3 separate regions of the Homo sapiens genome follow, and regions 2 and 3 are each linked to region 1. Evidence: fine-mapped expression QTL. A gene starts in region 1. Each other region holds a variant in brackets. All regions are shown on one strand. Distances are from middle to middle.

Region 1 (10,914 bases):
CCATGGTCCTAACCAAACATGCCTGTCATTGATTCTAATCAACTGTGGAAATCCCAGCATCTAGCAGGAAGGGGACAGAGTGGGATATTTTTGGTCAAGGAGACCTGTCCTCTTTTCAAGTCATATTACATGTGTACCTGCCTATTCTGTGATAATTCTGACTACAAGCTTTGGGAAGGCAGTGGATGAGAGTGTCTAGGAGATGCCTAGGTAAAGAAGCTCGGTCCAAACAACTGGCATGAACAGCAGCCCATGGTTATTTGGGGCCTGGTGTAGGTTTTTAAAAACTTGTTATTGTTGATGTAGATTTTATCCCATTTGTATTGGCTGTACATATACACATCCCTGCATTCTGATTATTAAGCATGGGACTTTGTAAATATGCATTGCACTCTGACATAACATTATTTCCAAGTCTTAAAACATAACTATTCCAGCACTGTGATATAAACACATTCATTCTCAGACACACGGTTTTCAAAACTGTAGATCAAGTGCTAACACTGGAAACAGAAAAAATCCACTTCACATTGCAAAGAGAAAAAAAAATCCACTTCACACTGTAATCAATTTGCTTGCCATACTGTCTCCTTGAGATGGGGATTATGCAATTAGTGGTAACAGAAATGCTGGGCATTCTATGAAGGAAGGGCCCCACAGGCTGTGATTCGCAAATTCTTGTTCAAAAGTAGATGCCCTGGTTCCATCATTAGAAATCGTGACTTATCAGGTCTGAGATGAAGTTCAAGAATCCTTTTTTTTTCTTTTTTTTTTTTGAGACGGAGTTTCGCTCTGTCGCCCAGGCTGGAGTGCAGTGGCGCGATCTCGACTCACTGCAAACTCCGCCTCCCTGGTTCATGCCATTCTCCTGCCTCAGCCTCCCGTGTAGCTGGGACTACAGGCGCGCGCCACCATGCCCGGCTAATTTTTTTGTATTTTTAGTAGAGACGGGGTTTCACCGTGTTAGCCAGGATGGTCTCGATCTCCTGACCTCGTGATCCGCCCGTCTCGGCCTCCCAAAGTGCTGGGATTACAGGCGTGAGCCACCGCGCCCGGCCAAGAATCCTTTTTTTTTAAACCTCAGAAATGATTACCATCTATTTAAGAAACAGATCCAATTTTGTTTATTTTTAATTTTTTAGAGACAGGATCTCACTATGTTGCCCAGGCTGGATTCAAACTCCTGGACTCAAGCAATCCTCCTGCCTCAGCTTTCTGAGTTAGCTGGGATTGTAGGTGTGTGCCACTGCATCTGGTTGTTCAAGACTCTTTATTGCTAAGTTTTAATAAGTACCCCAGGTGTTACTAATTCTGTGCCCTTTGAGCCATTCTCTGAAAGAACCAATTTCTAACATGTCTAATCAGGCATTTATTTTCTTTCAGGATTTAACATGAAGCAAAAGTGACCTGGAATCTTTTCTCCTTTTATTGCCAAAATGCAAAGAAAAGAGTCTTTAGCTCTCAGAAAAAGACTACATTTAAGAGTGAAAATAAGAAAATGTGGGAGTTTGAGGAAAAGTATCATCAGCTGTCAAATGTCATGAATGCGCAGTCTTGGTCAATGGGCCACATGACCCAAAACTCATTATCCTCCCCAAAGCCACCAATATCAATACATGCACCAAATGCATCGACGCAATAGTTTTCTACCTTGGCCTGTCAATGAAGTTATTGAAACTAAATTGCCAACTCATTTCCATTCTTCTGTTCAATTTATCACCCGTTTTGAGAGCTACGCCAATCAATTCTATTACACATTTTCCTGCAACTCCTCACTTGATAATGAAGTAATCAAAAGAATCAGGGTTTTACCTATAAATATTATTTCACTTGATACTTTAGATGAATTTCAGGATCCTTGCATGCAGTGTGCCCTTAATAAGTAATTGCTGAATGAATGAACAAAGTATTGGGCTGAATCACATTATTGTATATATTCACAAAGTAATAGATCAAATCATATTTTTAGTACAGCCAGTCATGAATTGATTCTTAAAATAAACCCATGGTGATCATTTTATAAAAGGGAAGACAATTTTTTTAATTTGGTAAGAACACTTATACTTTAATGTATGTTTTTTAACCTTTCATTTTGAAATAATGTTATAATAAATTACAAAAGCTATAAAAATAATTCAAAGAGCTCCCTTTCCATCTTCTGAGGGTAAGTTGCAGATGTGATGCCCCTTTACCACTTCATATTTCAGTTTCTCCTTCCTAAAAACAAGAACACTCTACTACATACCTTGAGTACAACATCAGGAAAATAACAATGATCCATTTTAATCCATTGAATCCACAGAATCCACTGATTGTGCCACAAAAGTCATTTATAGGTTTTGGATCCCATTCAAGATCACATGCTGCATTTAGTTGTCTCATCTCTTTAGCATCCTTCAATCTGAAACCATCTTTACTATCATAGTCTTGACATTTTTAAAGAATACAGGCCAGTTATTTGATTTTTCTTTCAATTTGCATTTGTCTGATGTTTTATCCTAACTTACATATTTATGCATAAGAAGTGACACTACATTCTCAGCATATCATATCAGGATGCTGCACAAGGCTGATTTGTCCCATCACTGGTTTTCATTTATGTAAAATTTTACCAGTCGATTAAGATGATACCTCCCAAGTATTACAGCTGCATGTTAATAAGTATGCTGTACTTATTAATAATTAATGATGTATTAATGAACATTTTTAGAGATATGCTTTGAGACTATGTAAATATCCTGTTCCTCATCAAACTTTTACCCACCAATTTTAGCATTTATTGATGATTCTGGCCTGAATCAATTATTAAGATGGTGGTTGCCAAATGGTGGTTTTCTAATTCTATCTTTTCTTCTTCATTTATTAGTCGCATTCTACTATAGAGTTCCCTTCTCTGTTTCTATCAGCATGGACTCATGGACTCTTATTTTACTCAAAGGGTTAAATTTGTCATTAACTATTTTACTCCTTAAATAGTTCAAGATTTGGCCAACAGGAACCCCTTCAAGCTGACTTCTGTCTTCTTTTGACATGTCTCCATAATTCTTTAAGTATTTTCTCATTTCCTTGCACAACAAATTATTCTAGTTTCATCCACTATACCAAGGAACTGTGGTTCCTTTCAGTGGAGGATGGTATTAAGAAACCAAGGTCTGAGTGTTAGGTGTGTTCATTGCTACTGGGGTGCCATTGCTTTTAGGCCTTCTCAGTCGACAAACCTAGGAAATATATCACCATATACACACACATATACACTTATATTTTTCTGTCTATCTATCTATAATCTCTTTGGATCCAAAATCATTTTACACCTTCATCTCCAACTTCAAGGCACATAGCTAGATCTCTTGCCTTTCTGTATTGGTAATTCCCTTCTCCAGCAGTGAGATGACTGGCTCCAATTTTCTTAATGTATTTACTTCTTTGCTCAATTCCCTAGCACATAAACCAATCTCTTGGCCATGTCAGCAAAAAATGTGTCCTGTCTCTATTACATACATATATATATAAAATACCCCCCACATACATACACATACATATGAAATCAGATATTTTATGTATAAGAAACCATACTACATAGATATATCAGGAATCCCATATAATACACAAAATGTATCAATATGAAAATACATATCTAATTCCTATAAATATCTGATTTCACATATTTTTTTTTAAAGAGAAGTACACAGTAAGGCTTTCTTCTGATGAGCCTGGAGCCTGCTGTTTATACTTCCACAGTATTATTCCTTCATGCTGTACTTGGCCCTCAAGGAGCTGCTAGCCTCAGAAATGCAGAGTTCCCACTGGGTGTGGTGGCTCAAGTCTGTAATCCCAGCACTTTGGGTGGCCAAGGCGGGTGGATCATCTGAGGTCAGGAATTTGAGACCAGCTTGGCCAACATGGTGAAACCCCATCTCTACTGAAAACACACAAAAAATTAGCTGGCAGGCACCTGTAATCCCAGCTACTTGGGAGGCTGAGGCAGGAGAATCGCTTGAACCTGGGAGGCGGAGGTTGCAGTGAGCGAAGATTGCACCACCACACTCCAGCCTGGGCAACAAGAAGGAAACTACGTCTCAAAAAAAAAAAAAAAAAAAAAAAAAAAAAAAAAAAAAAAAGCAGAGCTCCTCAAAGCGGAAGTTTCCCTAGTTGCTACCTTTCGCTCCATGTACAGCCTATTCTTTAACTGTGACAAACGGCCACAGCCAGCTCCACAACCGGCTTGAGCCAAGTATTGAGCCTGAGGAAAGAAAGATTTTATATTTCAGCTTTAATAAACAACTGGGACATCTGTTACAATTCTATTTTCCTCACTAGGCTGGGTATGGTTTCTCTTGGTTGCAGGTTTCCCCCCACCCCCCGCCTTTCTGTGTACTAAGCCTACCATAACACACATGTCTGCTTGTGTGTTATCCCATTCGACGTGAAGGCTTCAGGGCAGAGACTGCTTCCTTTATTATCCATTTCTAATGTTAGAAGAGGGTCTAACACAGAGCAGGTGCTATTTGTCTATTGAAGGAAAGAATGAATACATCCATTAATCAATGTAGAATGGCGGGAAAAGACACAATTTGGGAAGGAGACTTTACTCTTTAACTTCTGGACCCATGTGAATGAGGAGTCCAGGTCATCCATCGTTAAAGGCATTTAGGTATTTTATTTCAAGTATTTTTCCCCTTTTCTGGTGACATACTACAATTCAGGACTAAATCTCAAATTTATTCTTGATATTGATAGCATTGATATTGCACACAAATCCCACGGTTACCGTCCAGCACTAGTGATCTTGTCCTATTTCCACCTGCAGCTTTTTGAATCTAAGTACACATCGCATTTCAAAACTCCCACGTTAAAGAAAGGCATCAGTTCAAGTTACTTTCTCATTTTCTGTCTTCGACTTTTTTCTGCTTCCCCCAAGAATATCTGAGAGTTACTTTTCTCGAAAGTTCTTTTGTAGTGTTCCAGATAGGAATCATCCTGTAATATTCCAAATGCAGCGTGTGGTGTGCATGTTGAATACATAAAAATGACGAGGTTAGGAACAATATCGCTGACGGTCGCGGTGTCCCGTTTTAATTTAGAGGGCGCCAGCAACACGTCAGTGAGGGAGATTCAGAAGCCGCCGGGCACCTCACCCCGGGCCGGGAATCCCTAAGAGAACCTTGACGCCGCTGAAGTTTCCGGACCGGGCCAGTTTGGAATTGACGAAAGCAGCCTCCGCCCGGTCGAGCCAGTCTCTCGGTTTTCTCGGCGGCTTCTTGAGGATGAGGCATTTCTAGGTTTTCTCCTCCTCGAGCAAATCACGGTCTGCGCCTTCCGCGGCTCTGGGAACAGGTGAGCCGTGCGGCGGCGCCCGCGGGACGCGCTCAGGTGCCGGTCCCCGCCCGCCGGCCCCTCCCTGCAGCACGCGGTCCGGGCCCAGGTGCCGGGGCCCAGGTGCCGGCGCCCAGGTGCGCGGGGCACGGGGCTGCAGCTCCGCTCGGCATCCGACAGCGGGCGCCGCTGCAGCAGCTCGCGGGCCGCGGAGCTGAACGGCTTCGCGAGTTGGGGCAGCTCCTCGCGCTCGGCCCTGCTCGGCGGCGAGAGCTCCGCCTGGGCGCCGCGTTCCTACAGCCGCCGGAGCCGCCAGGCGCCGAGGGAACGGACAGACCTCCGCGCACCCTTGCCGACCGGGGCGGGCAGAGGCGGGCAAGCGGCGAACGCCTGGGAGCGCGGAGAGCCAGGCCAGCCCGGAGCGCGCCGGGGACACCCTGTGCGCCCCGAGTCCCGGCACCATGCGACCCGCCGCGCGTCCTCGCGGGCCCGGGGCTTCGCTCTTCGCTCGCTGAGCCCCTGCGCTCGCCACCACGGAAACTCGGAAAGAGGAGGCGAGGCTGTGGGGAGCGGCGCGGAGACGGACTAGACTTCCCCTCCGCCCCCAAGAGGCTGCCGGTCCCCGGTTCCCTGGGCTTCTCCAGCTTTATCATGAACCTGGCGCAAGGTTGGCTTTAGGAAAAATTCTGGAGCCAGAGGGAGAGTCAAGGCAATTCTTTGGTTGCTAAGGTAATTGTAGTTGTGATAAAAAATGGGCAAGAAACAAATGGGGGAAAAACATGGTTTAAAACAGTATCCTCCCTCCCCACCCCATTAATATGTGTTGATTTCATCTCCTGGGTGTGGGTGCTTGTCCATTTCAGATGCGTGACAGGTGCCCGTGTGTGTGTGTCTGCAGTTTGGGACTGTGGAAGCACGAGCTTACATAAGTGGTTAGGCAAGCTGGCGTGTGGACTTGTGTGGGATGGGTGCAGGTCTGCATATAAATCATGTTCCTGGGTTTCTGGGTGTGAAGCGCACACCGACGGGGACGAGAGCGCAGAGGATGGCGCTTTTAGATACTTCCAGTCTTCCGATGTTGTGATCGCAGGTAGGGCAGCTTTGCCTCTAATCAGGCGTTCATTAACTTTTTCCCTGAACAAGCTCGCCCATTTGTGGTTTGGAAGAAAAGAAAGCGAGTCTCCGCGGTGAGGTGTGGAGGGCAGGGGCGGGTGGGGAGGTTTGTTGTTTGGGAACTGCGCTAGCAAAGGAAGCGGTGGCTATTCGCTTGGAGAGGATGACAAATGAACTGGTTGCGTGAGGAGTGAAGAGACCGTGTTTACAGTCACCAGCAGGCTGCGTAAAGAAGTGGCCCAGTGAGACAGGGAAAGTGACCCAGAAAATTTAGTTTTGTTCAGAATGAAAGCTGCTGTATTTCATTTTTGTTTCTTAATTTGACGGAGTAGGAACGTTATTTTCCTTCTCTGTCATTGAGACCAGTAGCATTTCTATGTTACAAACTGAAGATATTTGGGGTCTCGTCGGCTTGGGATTATCAATGCTTGGGAGGTGAGTTCTGATCAATACCTTTAACAACCCCAAAGAAAAACGCAAAAATAATCAAGTTTAGGTAAAACTTCCACTGGACTTTCTTTCCAGGGAGGGTGAGAGATGGAAGAACTGGGCTTGTAAGTATCAAAATGGAGTTAGAGAATGAGCTACAAGTTTGTGTGTGTATGGTCTGTCAAAAAGTGTTAAGACTGAAAGGAAACTGTTAGGTTTAGTTAAATGTGTTGACAACACGGCTCTTACATATCAATTTTCATAGGCAAATAGGTAATTACATAGAGTGGGAACTGGGACTATGGTGGGAAACTTTCTGTAAGATGTATATTCTTTATTCTTAATTTATCACTTTTTCAATGGGTGGGACTACTCTGTGAAGGAAAGTAGAGGGCTGAGGGACATTTGGTGAGACTCTTGAGAGAGAAACCTTTGCAAGCCAAATCTCGCATGCTATAGATGATAAATTCTAAGTTCTTTGATATTGTACCACTCTTAAGCTAAATTGTCCTGTAAATATGATCTCATGCACCATAAACTATATATATGTAGAGAGAGTCTATTCCCAATAACTCATCCTTTCCTGAAAGAGTCTGCAAGTTCTATAAATGTCAGCTGTTGGGAGGTATTGTGATGAAGGAGAGAGGCCACCAGTGTTTCCTTTTATATATTTATTCTGGCAGATCTTAACTTTACTTCTGATTTTCTTTAAGGAATTTCAGTTAACATTCACTGAATTTATATTGCTGAGAGTTTCAGTAAAACAAGACTAGATTTTCTTTGAAGCAATAAATTCATCTTATCAAGTGAAACATTATGACAATGCTTTTGTGGCAGAAATGTTTATTTAAATGAGTCCATTTTAATTATTTATTTATTTTTGACTTGCAGAATAAGATCTGCAACATAGATGTTTTTGAAGTAAGTAGACGTTTCTTGAGAAAGAAAAATAAATTTAGGTTACTGTGGACAATTTGCCAGTAATTTTGGATGTCTCTTTGTCTACAGGGACATAATTTTGTGTGAAAGTAGAATCATTCCATTTCTTATGTCTCTCATCTTCTCCCATGCATTTTATCCCCTGAACTCCTAAGACTTTGCCAGGAATTGCTGAACATTCTGTTTCGTGCCAGGGGTTAAATATCAGGGGATGGAATAAGGAGCTGTGTGTCACATAAACATTTTTCAAAAGGATGCTGTCAGAGATCTCAATACCGGGATTAATTTTTCCTTTAGCTTTGCAGTTAGCTTGTCTTAATTGGTATTGCTCTGAACCTAGGAATGCATTTAACCTCTTCATTTTCAGTTTCCAGCTGGAAGGAATATATTTACCAAATTTCATCTTCTTTGTAACATATGGCATGATATAAATAATTACTATACACACACTATCCTGCTGTAAGGAAAGAAATAGAATTACAAAATCAACTTTCGTGTTGAGTGATATGGATATAATATTTCAAAAAACAATTTTAACTTTTCCCCTGATTCCAAAAGTAATATTTAGCTATTGAAACAGTTCAGGAAAATACAAAGAAAAAAATAAAGGTTATCCATAATCTGCTAGGGAGAGGGAGCCACTGTTAACATATCTTTAACTGTATATTCTTCCAAATATTATTCTAGTCAATTATTTCTACCCAGTCCCCCTCCCCCACACATTTTTATAAATATAAAATATAGCTTGGAAATATAACTTGGAAATGTGTTAAAGGCTTGGGAATTTACTGCTTGTTTACAGAATGATTTTGATCAGATATTAGTTTTTACTGGTGGTCCTTATTTTCAAAAAGAGTAGGTTCTTTCTTTTTCTGTTCTTTGAAAACAAGTGTTTGCACTTTGGGCTGGTAATGCTTGGGGCTTCCTTTTGAATTTAGGGATTAAAGCATCAGAAAAGAAGTAGAAAGGTCATTGGCCATTGTGGGTGGGAGACCTGAGTTCTGGTTGCAGTTACTCCAACTTCTCCTGTGGCCTCTGGGCCTCTGTTTCCCTAAAGGGCAAAAGGTACTTTTAGATTTAACTAATTAAGCTAATGACGTATTTATTGCTTTGACATGAGAATGATCTTTGAAGAGGGCTTATTCAAACACAGAAACACCTGGGGGTCATCCTGGGAGTCTCTGATTGATTCTGTCTGAGATGGGGCCCGAGAAGGTACATATCTAACAAGTCCCTGGATGATGCTGACTGCTGGTTTGGTGACAGTGAAAACTAGAGGGTTAAGTGTACTAGGGTTCTCTTAGAGGGACAGAACTAATAGGATATATATATATATATATATATATATGTACATATATATCATATATACATATATGCTATATATATGCTATACATGATATATATACATATGATATATGTACATATACCATATATCTATAAAGGGGAGTTTATTAAGTATTAACTTACATGGTCCCAAGGTCCCACAATAGGCTGGCTGTAAGCTGAGGAGCAAGGAGAGCCAGTCCAAGTCTCAAAACTAAAGAAATTGGAGTCAGATGTTTGAGGGCAGGAAGCATCCAGCATGGGAGAAAGATGTAGGGTGGGAGGCTAGGCTCATTTCTCCTTTTCATGTTTTTCTGCCTCCTTTATATTCGCTGGAAGCTGATTAGGTTGTGCCCACCAGATTAAGGGTGGATCTGCCTTCCACAGCCCACTGACACAAATGTTTAATCTCTTTTGGGCAACACCCACACGGACACACCCAGGATCAATACTCTGTATCTCTCAATGCAATCAAGGTGACACTCAGTATTAACCATCAAAAGCCCACCCCTTGTCAACTTGAACCCATACATATCTCCTGAGATCATACATAATCTTCAAATAAAGACAATAATGAGGTCAAAATTGTGCATAACATAATACAACTATCCTTTGTACAACCAGAAATGCACCAATCCCCAATGCAAATACTATTACATAAAGTTAACAATACTTACATGCTGTTGTGAAGTCAATAAATCTTATGTCACATGATAAAGGAAAAGGAAATGAAGATATTTTCTTAGTATGAGTGTATATATACACAAACATGTTTTTAACAAAAGAAGGAGGAAATACTCTTGACAATTACAGTCTGTTTCTGCAGCTGGTCACATGGTCGTAGCTGGTATTGATGACTACCTTCTTCTACCCATTCAGTATTCCTTTTGCCTACAGCAAGCACCTCAGCAGGTTCTTTTCCCTGGTGGAGTGACCCAAACCTTTATTCCTGAAGGATCTGGACCATTTGTAGTCCCGCCTGGATTGGGCTGTTGTAGTTTCCTGTTGACCTTAATCACAGGGCATGGTAATACTGAGAGATGCCCTAATGGATTTCCTGTGTTCCATATGTAGTCTTCCTTACCTCTGCTGTGGAGTAGTAGACTGATTTCCTCTTGATAGTCCAGGTCAATCATGCCAGCCAACACAGTAATTTTCTTCTTAGCCTGTTGACTGAAAGATAGGAGTATCCCAAACTGTCCAGGTGGCAATCTTAACTTCCAGTTTAATGGAATCGTTGTGTTTCCTGGTGGCAGTGTTCCTCCCTCTGGAACTAAGATCTCTAGGCCAGCAGAAGGTAATGTCTTGGGAACAGGAAGCAAAAATTTTGCTAGTGGATCAGTAGGGGTGATGGTGAGTGGTGCCACTTCCACTTCCGCCCCTTGATTCCTGGACCTGTGAATCCTGGCTATAGGAGAAACAGTACCATATATTGGATGCTGATTCAGAGCATACACGGCCCTCTGGAGAACTCTGCCCCAGCCCTGCAAAGTATTGTCACCTAGTTGGCATTGTAATTGTGACTTCGAAAGGCCATTCCACCATTCTATCAATATAACTGCTTCAGGATGATGGGGAGCATGGTAAGACCAGTGAATTCCATGAGCATGAACCCACTGCCACACTTCTTTGGCCATAAAGTGAGTGCCTTGGTCAGAGACAATGCTGCATGGAATACCACGATGGTGGATAAGGCATTCCGTGAGTCCACAGATGGTAGTCTTGGCAGAAGCATTGTGTGCAGGATAGGCAAACCCATATCCGGAGTAAATGTCTATTCCAGTGAGGACAAACCTC
Region 2 (10,914 bases), 110 kb after region 1:
TTTGGAGTTATTTTAAACAGCATTTAAAAAATATTTGGTTTCCAGCTCCTTATTGCTAACACATAAAAATATGATCCATTTTTTTACATGTACTCTACAACTTTGCTAAATACATTCATTAGTTGTAGGAGGTTTGTATGTATGCTATTTCTTGGGATTTTTCATGTAAACAATAATTTCATTTGTGAACAGGGACAGTTTTATTTCTTCTTTTCCAGTCAGGATATCTTTATTTCTTTTCCTTGCCTGATTGCTCTGGCTTGGAATTCCAGTATGGTGTGAAATAGGAATGGAGATAGAAGTTTGCCTTGTTTTCATTCACAGGAGGAAAGCATTCAGTCTTCATCATTAGATGTGATCCTTGTTGGTTTTCCAATGATATGTCCTTTATTAGGTTGACAAAAGTCTCTTTTTGTAGCAAATCTACATTTTACATGTCAAAAGAGGGAGTAGATGAAAAAAGTAAATTACATATTCATCTCATACTCAGTGAATCTACATTTTACTAAATAAGTTGAAGTAAACATAAAAAGAGGAAGCAGAGGAAAAGTCAATTATGCATTAATCTCAGGGTAGGTGAAGAGATAATTTCTGGTCTTGTCCTTGTCCTGTACCCGCAAAGATAAGCTGGTAGTTGACATTGTGAGGGTGAGAGTCAACAGAGCTCAGTTTTAGGGCTAGTTTATAGGAGGGATATAGATCCTGAACGATTTAGGGCCTCACGTTTATACTTATTGTATCTTCCCTATGAATTGGCCCTTTTATTGTTGTATAATGTCCTTTTTTGTTTCTTCTGACAGTTTTGACTTAAAATCTATTTGTCTAATATTGGTATAGCTACCTCTGTTCTCTTTTGGTTACTATGTGCATGGAATATCTTTTTCCATTCTTTCATTTCAGCTTATGTGTGCCATTATATCTAAAGGGAATCTCTTGTATACATCAGATAGTGAGGTCTTGTTTTTTAATTCCTTCAGCCATTCTGTCTTTTGATTGAGGCATTTAATCCATTTACATTGAAGCAATTACTGATTGGGAGAGACTTTCTGTTGTCATTTTGTTAACTGTATTCTGTATATGTTGTATCTATCTATTCCTCTTTTCCTTTTTCCTTTTTATTTGCTGCCTTCTTTTGTGTTTCATTGATTTTTTTTTTTTTTTTTTTGGTGACATGCTTTAATTCCTTTCTCATTTTCTTTTGTATGTCTTCTATAGGTATTTTCTTTGCGGTTGCTATGGAGATTACAAAAAACATCTTATAGTTGTAACAATCTATTTTAAACTGTTAACTACCTAACTTTGATCACATAAAATTCCTTTACATCCCCCGTCCTACTTTGTTACCAATCTTTCAAATTATACCTTTTTATATTGCATATCCAATCAAGCTTTCAAACTATATCCTTTTATATTGCATATCCATTTATAGAGTTTTATAATTGTAGTTATTTTTTAAGCTTTTATCTTTTAAATTCTATACCAGAATTTAAAATGACATACAACCTACCAGTACAGTATTACAGAATTCTGTATTTGTCTATATATTGACCTTTACCAGGGAGCTTACATTTTCATATGCTTTCATATTGATATCTAGGATCCTTTCATTTGAAGGACTTCCATTAGCATTTCCTGTAAGGCAGGTCTAGTGGGGATGAACTCTCCCAGCCTTTGTTTATTTCTCCTTCATTTTTGAGTGACAGCTTTTTTGGCCATGGTATTTTGTGTTGGCTTTTTTTTTTCTTTTAGCATGTTGAGTATATTATCTCACTTCCTTCTGGCGTATAAACTTTCTGCTGAGAAATCTGCTGATAATCCTATGGAAGATTTCATGTACATGATGACTTACTTTTCTCTTGCTGTTTTTCAAGATTCTCTCTTTGTTTTTGATTTTGACAGTTTGATTATAATGTGCCTCAGTTTAGGCTCTTCAGGTTCATCCTAGTTGGAGTTTATTGACTTTCTTGAATTTAGATGTTCTTTTTCCCCCTAGATTTGGGAAGTTTTCAGTCATTATTTTCTCCTTTCTCTCACTGTTCTTTCTCAGGGACTCTCATAATGTGTATATTGATCTGCTCAATGGTGTTTCTTTCTTTGTTTCTTTTTTGGCTTTGACTAGAAAATTTCAAATGACCTATCTTCAAATTCATTGATTCTGTTTTGCTCTTGATCAAGTGTGCTGTTAAACTCCTCTGGTAAATCTTCCAATTCAGTTGTTGTATTCTTCAGCTCAAGAATTTGTTAGGTTCTTTTTTAAAATAGTTTCTATTTATATTCTCATTTTATTCATTCTTCATTTTTTGGATGGTTTATTTTTTATTGCTGGTTGTCTGTACACCCAGTTAACTCTTTAAACTTCTTTAAGATGGTTATTTTGAATCCTTTGTCAGGTAATTTATAGATATCTGTTTTTCTGATCTGCTTTTGGAGATTTATTTTATTCCTTTGATTGGGCCATGTTCCCCTGATTCTTCATATGCATTGATTTTTGCTGGGATTTGGGCATTTGAAAAACAACTACAACAACCAGCTCTTCCAGTCTTAATGGACTGGCTTTGTGTAGGGGAAGACCTTTACCAGTCAGCCTGGCTAGAGATTCTGAGGGTCTCTGCGACCTTCTCTGGAGATGTGTCTTGTCTGGGCTTGCATGTAATTTCCCAATTAGAGAAGTTTGCTAATTTCTTTTTCAACAGTTTGTGTTCTCTTGCTTTCTCTGTGACACTCCACAGTACTGTAGGTTCTCCGGTACAGCAAGAAAACATCAAGTTCTTTTGTTCTCTGCAGCCCTAGATGTCCAAAGTATACCAGTTTCCCGTTAGAGTCTGTGTTAAGCAAAACAGAAACTAGTCTCTTAGGCAGCCCCCTGAAAAACTGGAACACTGGATGTGCATTCACTCCTCTTTTCCTCCCAAAGGAGAAGCTCTGAGTAGGTTGTTTTCTCCCAATTCATTGAGCTGTGCCAGCCTGGGGAAAGGCTAAGAATAGCAAAATAAAATGACTTTTCCTACCTGTTTTAATTCTGCTGTTCTTCACTTTGTATTTGCCTAGGGGCACTGTGGTTTCATAACTGGTTTCTGGAGGTCTTATAAAGGCATTTTGTACAATATATTGTTGGTAAGTCTGTGGGGGGTGGGCAGGGAATGAGATCTGGGGCATCCTATTTTGTAATCTTACTTATATCACCTCCCAGGAAGATCAAATTTTATACTTATCAGTGTATGAGAGTAGAAATGTCATTGTATTGGGGGGTCAGTAGATAAGATTCCATATCTGTTTCTATCACTAATGATAGAACTACTGCTAAATTATAAAAATGTAAAATGGTGCTAGAATAGAGATTAGAGTAACATATTTTTGAAACTTTAAAATCTGAAGGAATTTACTGCTTAACTTCTGCCTACTTTCAGGGTATTAATACTAGAGAAATTTCCTCTAATACTTTCCTTTTTCTTTTTCTTTTTCTTTTTTTTTTTTTTTTGAGATAGAGTCTTATTCTGTTGCCCAGGATAGAGGGCAGTGGTGCAGTCTCAGTTTACCGCAACCTCTGCCTCCCAGGTTCAAGCAATTCTCCTGCCTCAGCCTCCCGAGTAGTTGGGATTAGAGGTGCATGCCACCATGCCTGGCTAATTTTTTGTATTTTTAGTAGAGATGGGGTTTCACCATGTTGGCCAGGCTGGTCTCAAACTCCTGATCTCAGATGATCCTCCTGCTTCGGCCTCACAAAGTGCTGGGATTATGGGCATGAGCCACCGCACCCAGCCTCTAATACTTTTCTAATTATGAACCTGATGAATGCTTAGTAGGATATATATGTAAATCATCTGCAATTCATTCAACATGAGTAATTACTGTTAACATTTTATAGTATTTTCTTTACATTTTGTATGTATCTGTATAATGTATTCAAAATTATGTATATTTAAATGTTCTCTATACACAGATCTGTTTGCTCTCTGATCACCAGGCTTTATATAATAAACTTTTTTTTTCATGTTAAACATTCACTGGTTTTTCAATATCTGCATATTTTCCTAATAATATATTGCTGTAATATACCTCATTTGACCATGTAACCATATCTCATATTTCTATTTTGGGAGGTTATTATAAATATGGGGCCATGAAAATGTTTGTAGAAATATTCTATATGCTTTTAAAATATCCTGTTTTCTTCAAGTAGATTGCTGGAGATGGAATTTCTAGGTCAAAGAATAATGTGGACATAAATGATTTTAGAACTTTTTCTACCTTTGCCAGTTACCTTTGAAAAAGTGTGAGAGTGTTACATTGCTTTTGTTTCTCATGAATACTATCTTTTAAAAATTTTAGCTAACTTGATAGGTAATTTTATTTGTATTTCTTTGAACATTAATTCTGCTTCTGTGGCTTGTTTATTCTTATCCCCTTTGCCCTTTTCTTTATTGTGATATTGGAAATGTCCCTTTCAATTAGTTTTTACTCTTTATTTATTAAGGGTGTTAATACTTTTTTTAGATTTGTGGTAAATATTTTCCCCTGATTCGTAGTCTGCATAGCTTTTAATTGTCTTATGTTATTGTGGGTTGAAACTTTTATTTAGTCAAATTTGTACAACTTTCTTTAGTAACTTTTTTCCTTTGCTGTTGTGCCTGCAGTCACACACCATCCAGATATTAATCACCTAGATTTTAAATTTTCTATATATATACAAATTTCTGACTATACTATATTCCTTCTCTATGAATAACCTCTTTTAACATTTTTTTGATGGGCAAATTTGCTGGCAATGAATTCCCTCAGTTTTTGTTTGTATGAAAAAGTCTTTATTTTTTCTTCACTTTTGAAGGATAACTTTGCTGAATATAGAAATCTATGTTGGTGGACTCCCCCCATTTAACACATTAAATATTTTTCTCCATTCTCTTCTTGCATGGTTTCTAACAAAATGTCTGCTGCAACTTTCATCCTCTATAGATGTTTCCCTCCTTTTGGCTTCTTTCAAAATTTCTTATTTGACTTTGGCTTTCAGCAGTATAAATATGATAGCCCAGGTGTAGGTATTTTTGACATTTATTGTGCTTAGTGGTGGTCTCTAAGCTTCCTAGATTGGTATTTTGGTGTCTGTCATTTATTTTGGAAAGTTCTTGGTCATTATTCCTTCAACATTTCTTTTGCTTCATTCTTTCTTCCCCTTCTGTTCAGTTACACACATGTCGCACCTTTGCAATTATTCCACAGTTCTTGGAAGGTCGCTGCTGCTGTCACTGCTGCTGCTCCTTCCTACTCCTCCTCTTCCTTGTTCCGCTTCTCCTCCTCCTCCTCTCTTTTTCTTCTCTGCCCACCTCCCACTCTGTTTTCTTCTCTCTTTGCATTTTTATCTGGGAGGTGTCTATTGAGCTATCTTCAAGTTCTCTGATTCTTTCTTCAGCCATGACTAGTCTCCTCATGAGCCCATCAAAAACATTCTTCACTTCTGTTTGTCTGATTTCTAGCAATTCCTTTAGATTCTCTCTTACAGTTTCCATTTCCCTGTTGACATTACCTGTCTGTTCTTGCATATTGTCTGCTTTTCCCATCAGTGTTCTTAACATACTGTGATAGTTAATTTTAGGTGTCAACTTGACTTTAGAAGGGATACCCAGATAGCTAGAAAAGCATTATTTTTGGGTATGTCTATGAGGGTGTTTCTGGAAGAAATTGGCATTTGAATCAGCGTACTGAATAAGAAAGATCTGCCCTGCCCCAATATTGACAGGCACCATTC[A/G]GTCAGCTGAGGTCCCAGATACAACAAAAAGGGAGAGGAGAAATGAATTCATATTCTCTTTCTCTCCCCTTCTCTCTCTTCCTTCCTCCCTCTCCCTCTCCTTTTCCCTCTCTCCCTCCCTTCTAGAGCTGAGACATTCATCTGCTTCTGATCTTGAACATCAGAACTCCAGGTTCTTGGCTGGGTGCGGTGGCTCATGCCTGTAATCCCAGCACTTTGGGAGGCCGAGGCAGGCGGATCACTTGAGGTCAGGAGTTTGAAACCAGCCTGGCCAACATGGTGAGACTCTGTCTCTACTAAAAATACAAAAAAATAAGCTGAGTGTGGTGGTGGGTGCCTGTAATCCCAGCTACTTGGGAGGCTGAGGCAGGAGAATCACTTGAACTTGGGAGGTGGAGGTTGCAGTGAGCCGAGATGATGCCACTGCACTCCAGCCTGGGCAACATAGTAAGACTCCGTCTCAAAAAACAAAAAAAACCAAACTAACAAAAAAACCCAAAAAACTCCAGGTTCTCCACCCTAGGGATTCTGGGTCTTGTATCTGCAGTCCCGCAGTTTCTTAGGCCTTCAGCCTTGGACTGAGAGTTACATTGTTGGCTCTTCTGATTCTCAGGCTTTTGAGCTTGGACTGAGCCATGCTACCAGCTTCCCTGGTTCTCCAGCTTGCAGATGGCGTACTATGGGACTTCCCAGCCTCCATAATCAGATTTAATTCCCCTGATGAATCCCCTCTTGTCTATCTATTTATCCTATTGGTTCTGTTTCTCAGGAGAACCCTAATACACATATTAATCATAGTTATTTTAAATTTCCTATCCGATAAGTCCAGTATTTATCTGGTTTGATTATTACTTTGCCTCTTCAAATTGTTTTTTCTTGCCTTTTAGCATGCCTTGTAATTTTCATTGAAAGCTGAAAATAATGGATTGGGTAATAGACCTTTAGTATAAGGTTTTATGTTAATCTAGACTAGATTAATCACAGACTACAGTTGGCCTGTGTTTAGTATTTGCTGTAGCTGTAGGTGCCAGAGGCTTCAAATTCCTCTGGCGTCATTGTTTCAGTCTCCCCTGTTGTCTTTGGGATTCCCTAAGAACTCCTCAGATAGAGTTTGCATCTTGCAGCTCTTTTAGACGTAATCTAATGTAATCTGTTATTTTACTGGTGAGGTATGGTGCTAAGGTGTAGGGAAGGGGAAACATTCTGTAATCTTAGGACTACATACCAGTTTCTTAGTGGGCTTGCATTCATGGCCTATGACCTTCACAAGTGTTTCTTAGCTTTTATTTTCTTAAAGAAAAAAAAAAAAGCTCCCATAATGAGATAGGAAGGCTAGAGGGGGCCAGAGTAGGAGGAATGTCCTTCCCTCAGGTGGATAAGGCTCTGGTAAAGTCTTTTTGGATTCCACTCTGGAGAGTAGGCCTTTATTTTTGAAACTCCTCTGGGCATATTTCACAATAGTTACCATTAGGGATGGAATATTTGTGTCCCCCCACGCCCCCGCACCCCGCCAAGTTTATATGTGGAAGTCCTGACACCCAATATGAGTGTGTGTGGTAGGCTGCGTGTGGAGGTATTGGGAAATTCAGGTTCCCAAAAGTTTGGTCGTAGTGAAGTCCTCAGAGGTCTTCTTGAGTCTTTCCTTTTCTTCACCAAAGGCTCACTGACGTCATCCATCCTCCTGATGGAGGTCAAAGCATTAAAGTCATTTTTCTCCCTAGGAGCGTCTCCCCCATTGCCAAATTGCCAGGCTAGTATTAGGGAGAAATGTCCTCCCTGAATTTCATTGTTGGGTTTTTTTTTTTTTTTTTTTAAACCTTATTATGGCTTTAATGTTGAAATTTCTGTTTTGGACTTTTTAGCATGACACATACACACACCTCTCATTTTATTTTCATTGCTTTTTAAACTCCCATGTCCAATGTCTATTTTAATCTTATGTTTGGCAGCCTGAAACATTTTATTTCTAAAATTAATTCTCTAATTATACAACATCTACATGGCTTGTAATGACATCAGTAGAGCAGAATCTAGAATCCAACTCAAGGTTTTCGTTTTGTTTTTTAAGAGTAAGTAACTTATTTTGATCAATGTAGTAAGAGGAGATTGAAAGGTACCAGTGTGTGTGAAAGTGAATAGTTGCTTCCTCTCCCCATCTCCTCTTCTTCCTCCCCTGCTCCTCTCCTCTTCTTCCTCCCCCTCCTTTCCTCTTCCTCCTCCCCCAACCCTTCTTCCTTCTACTCTTCCTCCTCCTCTGCTTATTCCTTCATCTTAACTCATCCTTCACTAAAAAGAGTTATATTAGCATTAGAAGTATTCCTTAATGGCTATACTTTTCAGATATTATAACTTCAGAATTTTCTAGCCAATAACAGGATTCTAGGGCAAATGTCATGTAGGATATGGCTCTTCGAGTACCAACATGGCAAGAAATTGATTTCCTCTATTGAAGACACATTGATTTTCAGCTGTACTGAAAAACTCACAGCCTTCCAGTATCGACAAATAGTAAAAATTGACTTCACATAATAACACCTTTATTTACCTAGCCTTGTGACCCTCTGATTTTGTTAGATGATCCTATGGTGAAAGAATGCACCAGGACCAATGCTTGGACAAATAGTAAGTCTCCATTTTCTTTATAGTAGATGCTTCTACATAAAATTCCGCTTTGGGCAGTAACTTGCGTAGACAGCTGTTCTTGTGACACGACATAATGCACACTGAGCACGGTGACAGCTCCAGACGATGGTCTACTCTGGAGTTTCCAACTGGACTGGTAATCTACTGGATACTCTCATCTGGAATTGTCTCCTAGCTGAGTGGTTAAGCTATAGAAGCCCATGATTAAACAATGTTGTTTCTGGAAAGAATAATAGAAATGGTTATTATTAGTGAGTACTTACTGTCTGCCAGGCCCTGCACTAAGGGCTTTTTATGTGTTAGTTTTGTTTAATCCCCACAATATATCTAAGAGGTATTATCCCCCTTTTCCCGTGAGGACACTGAAGGTCCAACAGCTAATAAGTGAAGCTGGCGATATGTCCTGTTTTAGCTACTAACATTTATCAGCTTCATCATACAGACATACTTTGTCAGATTGGTTAGCCAGGCAAGTGACCGCTGAGAGAATGGGGCACAGGAGAAGTAAGTGATGACTGCGAACACAGGCTGGACAAAGATCACTTTCTTATACGAGTCTGCAGTTCTTGAAATAATACCTATCAGATATGGCATTAACAGTGATTGGTAGCCTTATCCAAATGCGATATTTGACTTTTGCCTTCATATCATGGTTTGAATTTACAAACTTCATTTCTTTTTCTTTTTTTTTGAGATGGAATCTCGCTCTTGTCACCCAGGCTGGACTGCAATGGCGCGCTCAGTTCACTGCAACCTCTGCCTCCCGAGTTCAAGTGATTCTCATGCCTCAGCCTCCAGAGTAGCTGGGATTACAGGCATGTGCCACTATGCCCAGCTAATTTTTGTTTTTTTTTTTTTTTTTTTTTTTAGTAGAGACAGAGTTTCACCATGTTGGCCAGGCTGGTCTTGAACTCCTGACAAACTTCAGATGGGGGCATTGCCTTAAGTGTATGATGCCCACCATTGAGGTAGACTACCACATGGTACCTGGATGAGCATCTTATGTTTCACCAAACCAGAAATTTCCCAGGCAAAGTGAACGGAACAAGAGAGACTGCGGATTCAGACGTTTCCTATGCAGTTATACTTCTGAATGGGTAGTCACAGTGTGTTCAAGGGTAAATGATAGCTAAATTATCACCCATCTTTAAATGTTTTCACTTTAACGGGGTTACCAAATCGCTCTTTAAACTTGAATTTCTATCAAGCTTCAGAACCATAAATGTTTTCTTAGAATTTTTCCAAGATTATCTGAATCAGTGAGTCCTTTAACTCACTTCTCCAGGTATCAAAAGTCTTTTAAGTCTTTTTTCTGCCAAAGGTGAATCTATGCTAACGCCTTCTAGTACTGATTCTCCTTTCCATTTTCCCATGCACCCTACTGCTTTCTGTCTCCCTTTGCAATTCAACAGAAAGAGAAATCATGAGGCAGTATGAAATGAAGGACTTTTCTGGGCTGATTTTCCTTTTGAATCAGAATGGAAATTTATGGTCATAGTGCTTTCCATGAGGTATTTAGAAGTTTCCAGTCAATCATTGCTCTTATCAGGGGTTCTTAAAGGCTTTGGGAGATACTAGGTTAGCTTTCTTACAATATAGGCTGCCCTTTGTTACAGCGACACTTTCTTTTTGCAGATTTTTTTTTTCTTAACAGAGAAAATTGAGATATGAAATTATTTCCTTAATCTCTACAATAATCAAATCATAATTATTTCTATTCTATTTTTTAAACTTTTAAATTTCACTAACAGTACATAGCCATTGCAGTAATTTTTTTAAAAAATAGAGAGGAGCTTAAAAATAACAAAAACCTCTATAATCCCATCACCCAGAGATGAGTTTTGGCCCCATTCATCTCACAAGTTCTGTGCAACTATTGCATTTCATGTTGCCTATTCATATTAAGAGAATAGCATTACTTTTATTATGATGATGATTTGTAAACAATTTCCCAGAGTTAATTCCCAGACATTTAAAAATTTTGGCCATAATTGAAAGTCAGGATTTTATCTTCTCAGTTGGAAAGTAGAAGAGAAAAGTATAACAGTGAAAAAAATTTTTCTTAGGTGTGTATTTGTGTTGGATTGTTCTAATTTCAAAACAGAGAAAGTTTTGAACTCCTGCTTTCATGGTTCATTCTTAGAAATAAATAGAATTGTTTTCCCAAGAAAACCTTGGAAAACTTTCTAGTAATAGCAGGAGGAATATGGGAGTAGGAAATGGCAAGTTGAAGGATTTTAATTTGGAAACTGCCACCTTTTGGAATACAGAAGAGCTGGTTATGGGATTGGCCCCTGGCTTTACTTGTCCTTAACATGGGCTTTGATAAGGGGAAAACAAAGTGAGGGCTTCGAGCCACAAGTCAAGGTCTTGGGAAAGCTTAGCAAAATGGTGCAAGTCTCTCGTGATATCTACCTTTATGCTTACTGCTTTCTATTGGCAAAAATCTCTCATCTTTTGCAGATGCACTGAGATCCCATCAGTAGACAGAGAAAGAACGTGGGTGAGTCAGAAGCAATCAGCCAGAA
Region 3 (10,914 bases), 620 kb after region 1:
CAAGCGATTCTCCTGCCTCAGCCTCCCGAGTAGCTGGGATTACAGGCACACGCCACCACACCCGGCTAATTTTTGTACTTTTAGTAGAGATGGGGTTTCACCATATTGGCCAGGCTGTTCTCAAACTCCTGACCTCAAGTGATCCACCTGCCTCCCAAAGTGCTGGGATTACAGGCATGAGCCACCACACCCCGCCCTCTGCTCTCTCTTAAGTGTGCTTGTTGCTTCAGCTTCCACAGAGTCTACCACAGTGGGGTGGGGGGCCTCACCAAAGAGGGCCTGGCTCTGACATAGAGGACCAGGAGCATGCGTGGGAGGGAGAGGGGGCAAGAGGAATCGGGGCCAAGCCACAGCAGCAGCTCCCTTGTTGAGATAGATACTGGCTGAAGCCATCTGGTGAGAGCTCCAATCTGGGGAGGAGAAGCTGGAGAAAGTCCTTTGCTCCTCTGTCCAGTTCCACAGAAAAAGCCGCAGAGGGTGATAGCACTGAAGTTAGGAGAAAATGGCAGCCCCGAGTGAGGCTGGTGTCAGCCTCCCTGGGTACCTTTGGAGGCTCAGTTGAAACCTTACCTGCCCTCTTGAGAGCTTCATCAGCTCCAGCCTTGGGCTCCAAAGATAGATAGATAGAAAATGGGGTTGCTGGTGCCAGAGCAAGCACTGGAGGCCACGGAGGAGAAGGGAGAGGAGGACCAGGCGTTCATCCACCTCCTAAGAGAGCATCGAAGTTTAGCTTTGCCAAGGTGCTCCTTGGAATTGCGGCAGGAAGGGCCGGAAGCTGCAGAAGGCTTGGCATGTGATGGGTGGCATCTCTGCGACAGGCTTTCCTGTCCTGCCTGCCTGCCAAGGAATGCAGCAGGCAAGTCAGATGGGGAGCGGGAAGCTCTGGGAGCCAGCTGCCACTCAGCCTCCCTCGCCCCCTCCTTCCATCCCCCTGTTCCTTCCCCTGCCAAAAGCCAAGGAAGAGCTAATGAGAGCCAAGAAGTCAACAGCTCACTCATCCCCCTCCAGGCAGCTCTGCAGAGAGAAACTCCCAGCTCCAGGCCCAGGTGCTGACCGGAAGTGGAGGGCTAAGGCTCTCCGCAGGGGAGGGGGCAGGCAGGCAATCAGGGCAGTCAGCCAACCGGCAGAAGCAGCTCCTGCCCCCAGGAAGGCGGTGTTGTTTTCCCCTCCTCCTCAAGGTTTCATGGGGAACAGCCTTGCACCCTGGTGGAATGAGTTCCCAAATACCTAGACTCAGCAGAATCCCCAGAGGGCTTTGACCTCAGTTGAAATGATCTTTCTGTGCCTCTGGCAAGGGCCAATTGGCTAAAAATCTTTCCAAAGGGTTAGTTTTTATTGCAAACAGTCCTTGGACTCCTTTGGGACCACTGGGTCACAAACATTAGTGCCAGCCTCTCCCATCTCAGAGCACTGAGATCCAGCTGCAGTGAAACCCTGGCCCTGGCTGGAGCTGGAGGGAGACTTCCATCGAAGTGTTTGGGAAGGAAAGCAGGGAAACCTGCCTCTCTGGAGCAGCAAGTGCATGTCCTGGGACTCTGAGACACCTCAGCAGCCCTCCTGCAGACTGGCTCCTGCTTCCAGCCTCAGCTTGCTAGCTATGTGACCTCAAGCAAATCACTAGCCCTCTCTGAGCCCTGGTTTTCTCCTCTGAAATGACTTGGACTAGGTCGTCTCGATGGTCCCTTCCAGCTAGCGGTGTTCTGCAGGTCTGTGCTTCCCTCTGTCCTGAGATTTCTGAGTTATATAACTCATTCCTTAGAATGGGAGAGGAGCTGTCTTCTTGCCCAGTTAGTTACCTGATTCAGAAGTGCCTGCCAGCCTGTGAGGCTGGGAAATAAACTGTGGATAGACTTGAGTTGGGTGTATTTACAAAGCCTGGACATGCACTGGCAGGAGAACTGAGTGCCCCAGGCTCCCCACACCTACACCACAGGCCCTGCTCAGTTGTTCAGGGTTCACTCGTCCACGGTGAGTCGCCGGAGGGTCAGGGAGGACTCACAGAGAACAGGGTGAGTGCCCTACACCCTTCAGCTTGCCAGTTCTGCAGTCCCCACCCTTCCGGTCTGGATGCCCAGCTGTGTGTGTGTGTGTCAGGTGGGGTCAGCTGGGCAGAAAGGTGGACCCCAGGGTCGGTGTTGCCGCATCACTGCATGCACTGTGGGGTCCCAGGGGCCCTATGGGTATAGGAAGGAATGAAATGTGAGCACTTGGGAATCTCAGCACACTCTGCTGCTCACCTGCTACCAGGCTTTCTGGTTCCCCAGGGAACCCTGGGCCAGCTTGTTGCTGTCCTCTTTTAGCGATGGGAAATAAGAGTATGAGAGACAGTGTTATCCTGTTTACAATCAGTGGTGAAGTCCGTGGTTAAGACCAGGTTACAACTCCTCTATGCTTCGCTTCTTATCTTGACTCTGTGTGAAATTAGGAAAAGCATATTTACTGTTATAGTTTTGTAGCTGGAAAATGAAAATATAAAAGTCTATTTTTTATAAACTACAAAATGTAAAACAACAGACTCAGTATGGCTGGTGGGTACAGAGAAGACAAAGTGGCTCCTCACGGGGTTGACAGGAGTCTCGAGACTTTTATCAAAAAAGGCCAGAAGTTGGTTGTCATTTTTGAGACACTGGGCCCTAGACCCTGACGTTTCCGTTGGAAGGAGGAGCCCCCAGCTGTTCCCGCTGATGGTTCAACCTGTCCGCCAAAAGCAGCCAAAATGCTCTCCCCACGGAGTGCCCACTTGGAGAAAAACCCCACTGGTGACTCACCTTCTGGACATGTGGGGCAATCAGGGCCCGGTGGAGGCAGCTGCTCCTGGCTTTCCCTGGTGGGCCCTCCCTCGACCCCCGCCCAGGCCCTCTCCTGCCTTCCCCAGACCCCAATGTGCCAAGCAGTCAAGTGAAAATCAAATCCTCTGAGGCAGAAAGACACAGCTGTGTGTTTACAGCCACTGATTCAGATCCAAATCGCGTACCCTGCCAGTCTCTAGCAAGGCAGGCTGGGGGCAAAGTGTGTGTATGCCAAGCAGGGATCTATTTCGGGAGGTGACCTGCAGGCCTTCGCCATGACAGTGCCTTCCTCCCACCCACTCTCAGGAAAGGTGCTCTCACTTTACAAGCGGCTGATGGGGTTGTGGGGTCTCGGCATGCTTGTCACTTGTGCAGTCAGACCCCAGTGCCATCCTCGTGCAGCCACATGGGAACTGTGTGGGCTCCCACCTGCCTAGTAAGAAGGCAGAGAGTGAAGGGGAGTGCAGGGCCCCCCGCAGGATAAACAGCGGGAAGGCCGACCACTCAGAAGACAGGATGCCCGCCTCTGCCTAGGACAGAGCCTGCCTCAGTCCTGTCCGGGGAGCAGCAGCACCGCAGCAGAGGGGGCCAGAGAAAGAGCATCCAATGGCAGGAGTCTGGCAAGGCGACAGCACTGCCAATGTCACGGTCAAGGAGAGGAGACCCAACTCTGCCTGTGGTCCAGACTGGAAAGTTCAAAGAGAAGTCAGAGAGCTTCAAGTCTGAGGACTTCAAAGGCTAAGAAGTAAGACCCCCCCCCGACCCATGGAAGTCCCCCCAAAATGAGCTCCTGGTGGAAACAACAGGGGATGCTTCCCCCTTTTAAAATAGTGATGAGTGTCCCTGGTTTGAGTTGAGTTAGGAAAGCATGACATTTTGGAAGGAGGCCAGGATACCTGTCCATAGGTAGGAATAGCCTGTAAGATGTTGCCCTCCTGCAGTGTGGCTAAATGGGACACTGCCGGGGGTGGGACTCAGAGCAGTGGGATTTTTAGTTTTGTCATGTTTGCCCAAAGGTGGATGAGAGAAAGACCCTTGGGTGTTTGCTTAGTGGCTTCCCAATGGGTGGGAAGGTGAGACGGGGTTGGAAGCATGGAGCCACCCCAGCAGTGGCAGGGCCACAGGGCAGCGGTTCTTCCATGCCCCCTAATCATGGCCACATTGTATCAGCCTGAGCATGAGCAACAGCACCATGGCCACATACGGGAATGGGCCTCATTGGTGTAATATTTGGCAGATTCTCTCCACACCCCCCGTGGCGGTCTGGCTTACTGTTAAGAAGGGTAACCTTAAAAAATACATTTCCCACTCCAGAAAATACTCATATGTGGCCTGTTAGCAGCACAAGAAGGGTGAAAGCAATGCCCATTCCTGCCTCCCTCCCCCTGCTCACCTCCACGTCCCTGTTTGCCCCTTTGTAGGTGAAGTGAGTATATTCAGCGTCTTCATGGCAGGGGAGAGGGTGTATTAATCCGTCTATGTCCGCTGGAAAGGCAGTCTCTGAGCGGGCCACAAGGGTTCAGCCATGGCCCATCCAATAACCTTTTTGATGACTTGGATGAAGAGACAAACATTCCAACCACATTCAAAGATCCAGACCTCCAAAGTGTGGCTCATTTGGTAGATAATGGAATTATATTTGGAAAGCATTTCCCGCAGCTGGGATGATGGGTCAAAAACAGATAGCATTTTACCAGATCATATTTGTGTGTGTGTGTGTGCGCGCGTGTGTGTGTGTGTGTGTGTGTGTTTTAAATTCAGTTTCCCAACTACAGGATGGCATTTGTAGCCTTTCCTAAAAATCAAGTTTAAAAAAAAAAAATTTCTTGGGTTGTAATTGACGATAAGCTTAGTGTAAGCAAATGCAGAATGCAGCTGCTTTCCAAAGGGCAGCTTTAGGCTATATAACAAAAGTGGGAAAGGAAAAGTGTTCCATTGCTTTTTGTTGCTCTAAGCAATATTAAGTCTTGGTTCTAAGCCCCCACATTATCAGGAACTTTAACATCTAGAGACAATTGAGAGAGAAGAGCTAGAGAGAGAAAGTGACCCTGGAAGCCACGTCGGAAGAGGCTGGAGTAAAAATGTCTAGCCCCCCAGCAGACTTGATGGCCACCGTGAGCTCTTTGCATTTGTCTTCAAGAGTGGACACTTCCGGGTTGCTCCAGAGAGCAAGGCTAGAACAAATGGCTAGAAGATAGATAGGTAGATACTAAAAATATTCTAACAATAACAGAATATTCCAACAATAGACTATGTCCCCTCAAAGGGCAACGAGCTCCATGTCTAGCCGTTTAGAAGCTGAATGGCCAAGGATAGTGCAGAGTAGGTTTCTACACCAGATCCCATGATCTTTTGCAACTGGAATTCTATGCTGCCCCAAATACTTGTTAAATGGATCCGACTGCATTTCATTCTGTGGTTTATAAATAAGTCCTGGAAAAGGAGAATGAATTATAAGGAAGGAGTTTGCTGAGATTGGAGGAGAGGGATCTGAAAGACTCAGGACTAGACTCCGCCTTGAGGGAGAAAAAGCCACAAGATGACACACTCAAAGCAAGGGAAACCGTCAGGAAGTGGAATTACTGCCCTTCACATGTCATCCTTGCCTTCTTTTCTGTTTTTTGTTTTTTTTTTTGGCATTTGCTGCCGCAGCAGCTGAGCTCTGGGCAACAGGGCTCTCTCTCCCGAATGTCTGAAAGGAGGTCAGCAAGTGGAGGACACAGGCGCCCACTGGCACAGGGCATTGGCAACCATCGTGCAGTGAGCCCCAGCACAGCCAGGGTGGCCATGTGCGTGGGGCGTCCTGGCCCAAGGTTGAAGAAAACTCATCCTGTCATAGTTCCCATCCGGAAAGGGTGTTTTGTTGAAAGCAAAAAGGATCATAAAGTCATTTGCCTTTTACCCAATGCCAGTTCCAGATTCCAGGTAAATGAGCTAACATCAAAAACACCTCAGCCGGCTGGGCGTGGTGGCTCACATCTGTAATCCGAGCACTTTGGGAGGCCGAGACAGGCAGATCACCTGAGGTCAGGCGTTCAAGACCAGCCTGGTCAACGTGGTGAAACCCCGTCTCTACTAAAAATACAAAAATGAGCCAGGTGTGGTGGCACATGCCTATAATCCCAGCTACTCGGGAGGCTGAGGCAGGAGGATCACTAGAACAAGGGAGGCGGAGGTTGCAGTGAGCCAAGCTTGCACCACCTCACTCCAGCCTGGGCGACAGAGCAAAACTCCATCCCCATCCCACAAAAAACCCCCCAGAGACCTCGGACTGAGGAGAAACTATGCCCCCACCCTGGCTTCCCTCCTCTAGGGCCCTGCCAGGGGGACTTGTCCTCAGCCCAGCTCAGGGAAAGGGAAGGGTTCCCATGTCACATTCTTTCCAGCTGTCCTAAGAACCACCCCGATTGCCGATGACACTCCCTCCTCTCTTGGGCTTCACCAGGGCTGCTTTCAACTCATCGTGGGATTGTGTAATTATGGTGATTACAGCTTGTGACTTTTTTCCTCT[C/CTT]CATCTTTTGCTTTCAAATTCTTTGAGGCCTCTCATTAAACATGGCGATCCCGGTAAAGTCAGCAAAGTTTTAATAAGACACTTTTTACAGCTAAAGAAAGCCCAGTCAGGGTTGATTGCTACTATGTTCTCTCAGATACTCCATTAAAACTCTATCAGGTGCAGTTGGTGCCTAGGTATAAGAGGTGGGGGAGAGGGAAGGCAGGGAGGCAGAGGGCACCTGTACTTAGTGACAGGGCTGGAGAACCATTCCACACCATGCCCCTGGCTTTTTTTGTTTGCACTAAGCACCAAGTACATCTGAGCCCCCGTGCCTAACAGGAAAAGACAGACTGTCAAGCAAGGACCGAAAGCCTGGCCTTAACATCATAGCACATTACACTGGGAAATGGAGATGGAGCATCCAAGACAACACTTAACCCAACCTTGTAATCTTCTGCAGCAAAAGTGGTGGGGGAATTCTGATACGTGCTCTGTCCTGGTTAATACTAGAAGGTTCTGAGGCATCCATAATTCTAAATAATTAAAGGAGTCAATCAATCACTAGCCTTTGTGAGTCATCACAATCCGGTGGTTTTACACCTGATGGAGGTTTTACACCTGATGGAGGTTTCCTTGGTAGTGATTCAGCTTCACATCTCATTCTTGGCTAATCTTTAATCATAGCTTGCTTGCTTGCTTTTTGTTGTTGTTTTGGTTTGGTTTTTGGGGGGGTGTTTTTTTTGAGACAGAGCCTCGCTTTGTTGCCTAGGCTGGAGTGCAGTGGCGCAATCTCAGCTCACTGCAACCTCCACCTCCCAGGTTTAAGCGATTCTCCTGCCTCAGCCTCCTGAGTAGTTGGGATTACAGGCCTGCACCACCACACTCAACTAATTTTTGTACTCTTAGTAGAGACGGAGTTTCACCATGTCAGCCAGGCTGGTCTCGAACTCCTGGCCTCAAGTGATCTGCACACCTCGGCCTCCCAAAGTGCTGGAGTTACAAGTGTGAGCCACCGTGCCCAGCTCATAGCTTTCTTGAATAGTTATCATAGCTGTAGGACATCATGAGAAGGACCATCAAGGAGTGTGGCTTGTGTGTGTGAGCCCCGTGACCCACCCTTCAGCAGGTTCATCCAGGTTCCCCTCATTTCTATATTCCCTGGGGACTACACAGATGCCCGCACAGTGAAGTGCATCTTGCTCCAGCAGGACTGTGTTTCTGAGAGGTCCCTGATTGGCTGCTCGTGGCTGACCGTCCCATACCAACCAGACTGCCTTTTACCCTGCAGGTAGCCAGTTACCTCACTACCTGTGTCTCAAAAGAGCAAGGAGCTGGATTGTGACTGAGCAGCACCAACCACCTGGAGTTAAATGTCAAAAACGTGGCAGGGACATTTCCCCCAACTGCATTCCCATCCACTACTGAAGGTGGCCTGCTCGTGTGACCCCTTGAGAACAACGGTCCCTTTAGTACCCACCAGAATGCAGAGAAGTAAGCTAAGTTCGAGACAGGCAACCCCAGCTGAATCCCTTTTTCTCCACCTGATATTATGTGACCCTGGGCAAGTCACTTGCATGTCTGACAGGTACAACAAAGCCCACTGCACAGGGTAGATGTTGGCATTCAATGAGGATGTGATCACAAGAGCTGCCATTTATTGGGAGCTCACACTCACAGTGTTGGACTGTGTCATGCTGGCTTTGCCTGGGATGGACTTTGGTTCTACTTCAGCTCCATCACTTAGTTGTTTGAATTGCACAGCTTCTCTAAGCCTCAGTTTCCTCATCCATAAAAGGGAGATAAGAGTAAATAAGTAGGAATAAAATGCATAACGTCCTTAGCACACTGTGTGCAGTGCGTGTGCTTAACAGGTGTAGCTCTTAGAATCAGTTTCATCATTATGATATTATTTGCAGCTCATACTTAGGCTGCGCTTATTACCTTATTTAATTTCCAACAATATTCTGCAAGATAGGCATCATTATATACATCTTGTGGTTGAGGGTGGGTACGTGGGTATCTCCTATATGACAGTCTGCACAAGGTGCATGTATTACAGAGATCAGCTCATGGTAACTACTCAATAAATGGCAGCTATGATTGTTGGCTTATTTTTAAAGTCAACTCAGAGAGTTAGTTTTTCTGCATTTCCTGGAAATGAAGGGACTGTGGTGCCCAGCAGGCCAGCTTCTGTTCTATGGTCGATTTCCTGGGGCCCCTAAGCACTTCCCGGGAAGCTGTGGGAACTGGGGGGCTTGTCAGCCTGTAAGGTGCTGGGAGGTGGGGAGGGCCACCAGGCAAATGGTGCACGTGTTGTGGGGATCTGGCATTTGGCCGCCTACTGAGTTGAAGGACTCGAAGGTGCCTCCTGCTACCAGAGACAGATAAGGAATGGGTCTACCCAAGATAAGAAGATGAAATCCACTCCTCCAAATGTAGCCCTCCATGTGACAGAAACACTCACCTCTCAGCTGTCTGCTTGCCTGGAGCCACCCTGAGCAATGCAACCTCAACAAGTCCAGTTGCTCCGTCAGTCCAATAAACAGAGGTTTCTCTTTTTTAACCACTTATTCCAAAGCGAGGTAGTGGAGGAGTCAGAAGCACGTGGCAGGGGATGCTTTGAAATTCCTTGATAAACCGGACCCCTGGGGTGGGCACTCCTACTGCCTATAGTACCGACAGAAACAGAAGTGGAGAAGTTGTTTATTTCCAATGAGGTCAATAAATGCCTTTTTCATGGGGGAGAATTCCATTTTTATATATGTATTTTAAGGTGAATGCTTTAAGTTTGCAGTATTTGTCAGAGTGGCATCTTAGGAGCTGATAGAAAACTCTACAGCCAAACAAGCGATTGCCTGTGCACCTTGCATGAGATGCTTCTGTAAGTGCCTGTGGTCTCAACATGCACATGAACGCATGCACTGGTGTATGCACATGTGCACAGGTGTATACACAGGTGCATGTGCCGCCTGCCTGATGTTCGCCTCTGTGTTCAGTGTATGGTGTGCATATAACCATAAGCTGCAAACCTGCAAGTATCTCTGTTGCATGGATTGCATGCCCTCTGCAGCTGTGTGTGTGTCTGGGCAGGGGCTCCTCTAAAGCCACAGGTCTTCACAGTTTCAGCTGGATAAGTTATTCTTCACTTCCCTTCCTAAAAACACAATTGCCTAGTGCTGCTGGCGCAGAGTCAGAATGGCCGCTGCATTTCACCCCCGAGGTGGCTTCCTTCCAGCAGTGGGTGAGTGATCCCGGCGTTCGCACACTCTCTAATCTGTGGAATCCTTCTGCACAGAAGGTGTTCCAAAATCCAAAAGAGATGATCTGTTTGTCCATGGCATCGTCTCTGCCCACCACTCCTGTTCTCATGCCCTGGTTCCAGGGACAGTCGGCAGCACCCATTTCTTGGTGTCTCTGTTTTTTCTGCCCATTTTTTGTACCCATAGTTTTTCTCTCCTAAGAAACAAGGAGCTGAGGGGTCCAGAAATGATGCTGAGATGAGTCCCTTGTCCCAGAGGCAATGTGCAGATAACATCCTTAGATATTGACCCAGTAACTCTCTTCTCCTAGTCCCATTCCCTAGCAGAACAGGGAATACCCACTACCTTTGAAGATGCTTCTAAATCCAATAACAGCATCCTTAGGCTTCATTTCCTGGTGAAAGCTTCCATAACTCTTCCTCTGTGGGCCCTGGGCCAAATCCTGCAGGAAACGTAGCAATCTCACATTTCTACACACTACACCATCAGGGGAGAAAAAAGCTGGGAAACCGCCCATCCTCTGTCCCATGGGGACCAAAAGCATCTCAGCAGCACGTGAAAAGAGCCTGTAGGGAAATAAGGTTCTCTGTAGCTAAGAGTTCCAATGACCTAAGTTTCTGTCCAGGTATCTCCTGAAAACGCTGCTTAGTCTGTTCCCTGGTGTACTTCCTCCGGTTAGGAATCCATGTCTGATAAGTGCCTGCTAAATTGCATTCCTGATAGTGGGGAAGAAAGAAATGAGCCGGCCCTCTTTGCATATGCATCCAAATGGGCATGGACATTCACTGAATTGTTATGCTTTTGTGGGGGGATGAGAGGTCAGCAATTCTAGGCTCCGCCTTTTCAGCTGGCTAAACCAAGGACCCCAAGAAATGTACGTGTTTTGGGTGAACACATTTGCAAGAGATAAGTGTCCTCAGGAGGATGGGGTCAGAGTCCTCATAGGTCCTCAGGAGAATCACATACTGCCAACCAAATAACTTTCTCTTGCCGCTTTGTCCACAATATCAAGTAACTAAATTCCAGCTTCACTGTCTCCCGTAGTCATAGTCAAGGGTTACTTGAATTTCCTAGTTGGAAAAAAGTAGCATCAACTTGTTGCCAATAGCAACACAGCCATGTCCCTGTTTCCTAGAGCCTTTTGGTCTTTGCCTAATTTGGAGTGAACCAGAGCTTAGATGCCAGAGTCCATTTGGGAAGGAGGAGGAGAAGAGGAACAGGCGGGCATTAAGTGGGTCACAGGAAGGCATGCCACCGAGAGGCCTTACAGGCAGAATGCCACCCTCATTCCACTCCTGAAGCCACCAAGAATTTCCTGCAAGCTGAGAGAAGAAAGAGCAACAGGGTTGTTCCGTCAGATGAGAGGAGGGAG

What was found. PIP is the estimated chance that this variant, and not a neighbour inherited with it, causes the effect. A credible set is the group of variants that fine-mapping cannot tell apart.
Region 2: its variant is the best candidate, but not a certain one, in a credible set for the expression of RGS6 in lung (GTEx, PIP 0.89).
Region 3: its variant is the best candidate, but not a certain one, in a credible set for the expression of RGS6 in whole blood (INTERVAL, PIP 0.84).

The regions. Positions count from the first base shown.
Region 1 is chr14:71,926,900-71,937,813 of GRCh38, forward strand. It overlaps RGS6 (regulator of G protein signaling 6), which reads left to right and starts at 5,530. Exons shown (of 18, transcript NM_001204424.2): 1 at 5,530-6,042. It overlaps LOC124903404 (translation initiation factor IF-2-like), which reads left to right and starts at 5,027. Exons shown (of 2, transcript XM_047432046.1): 1 at 5,027-5,126; 2 at 5,270-5,991. The coding sequence starts at 5,027. The coding sequence ends at 5,991. RefSeq lists silencers at 5,319-5,598, 5,619-5,778.
Region 2 is chr14:72,038,668-72,049,581 of GRCh38, forward strand. The region is part of intron 2 of RGS6 (regulator of G protein signaling 6); the gene reads left to right. Among named protein-coding and RNA genes, the nearest start is that of RGS6, 110 kb to the left of the region's middle. The variant A/G (reference allele first, on the strand shown) is at 5,744.
Region 3 is chr14:72,543,834-72,554,747 of GRCh38, forward strand. All of the region lies in intron 17 of RGS6 (regulator of G protein signaling 6), which reads left to right. Among named protein-coding and RNA genes, the nearest start is that of MIR7843, 32 kb to the left of the region's middle. RefSeq lists an enhancer at 988-1,766. The variant C/CTT (reference allele first, on the strand shown) is at 6,301.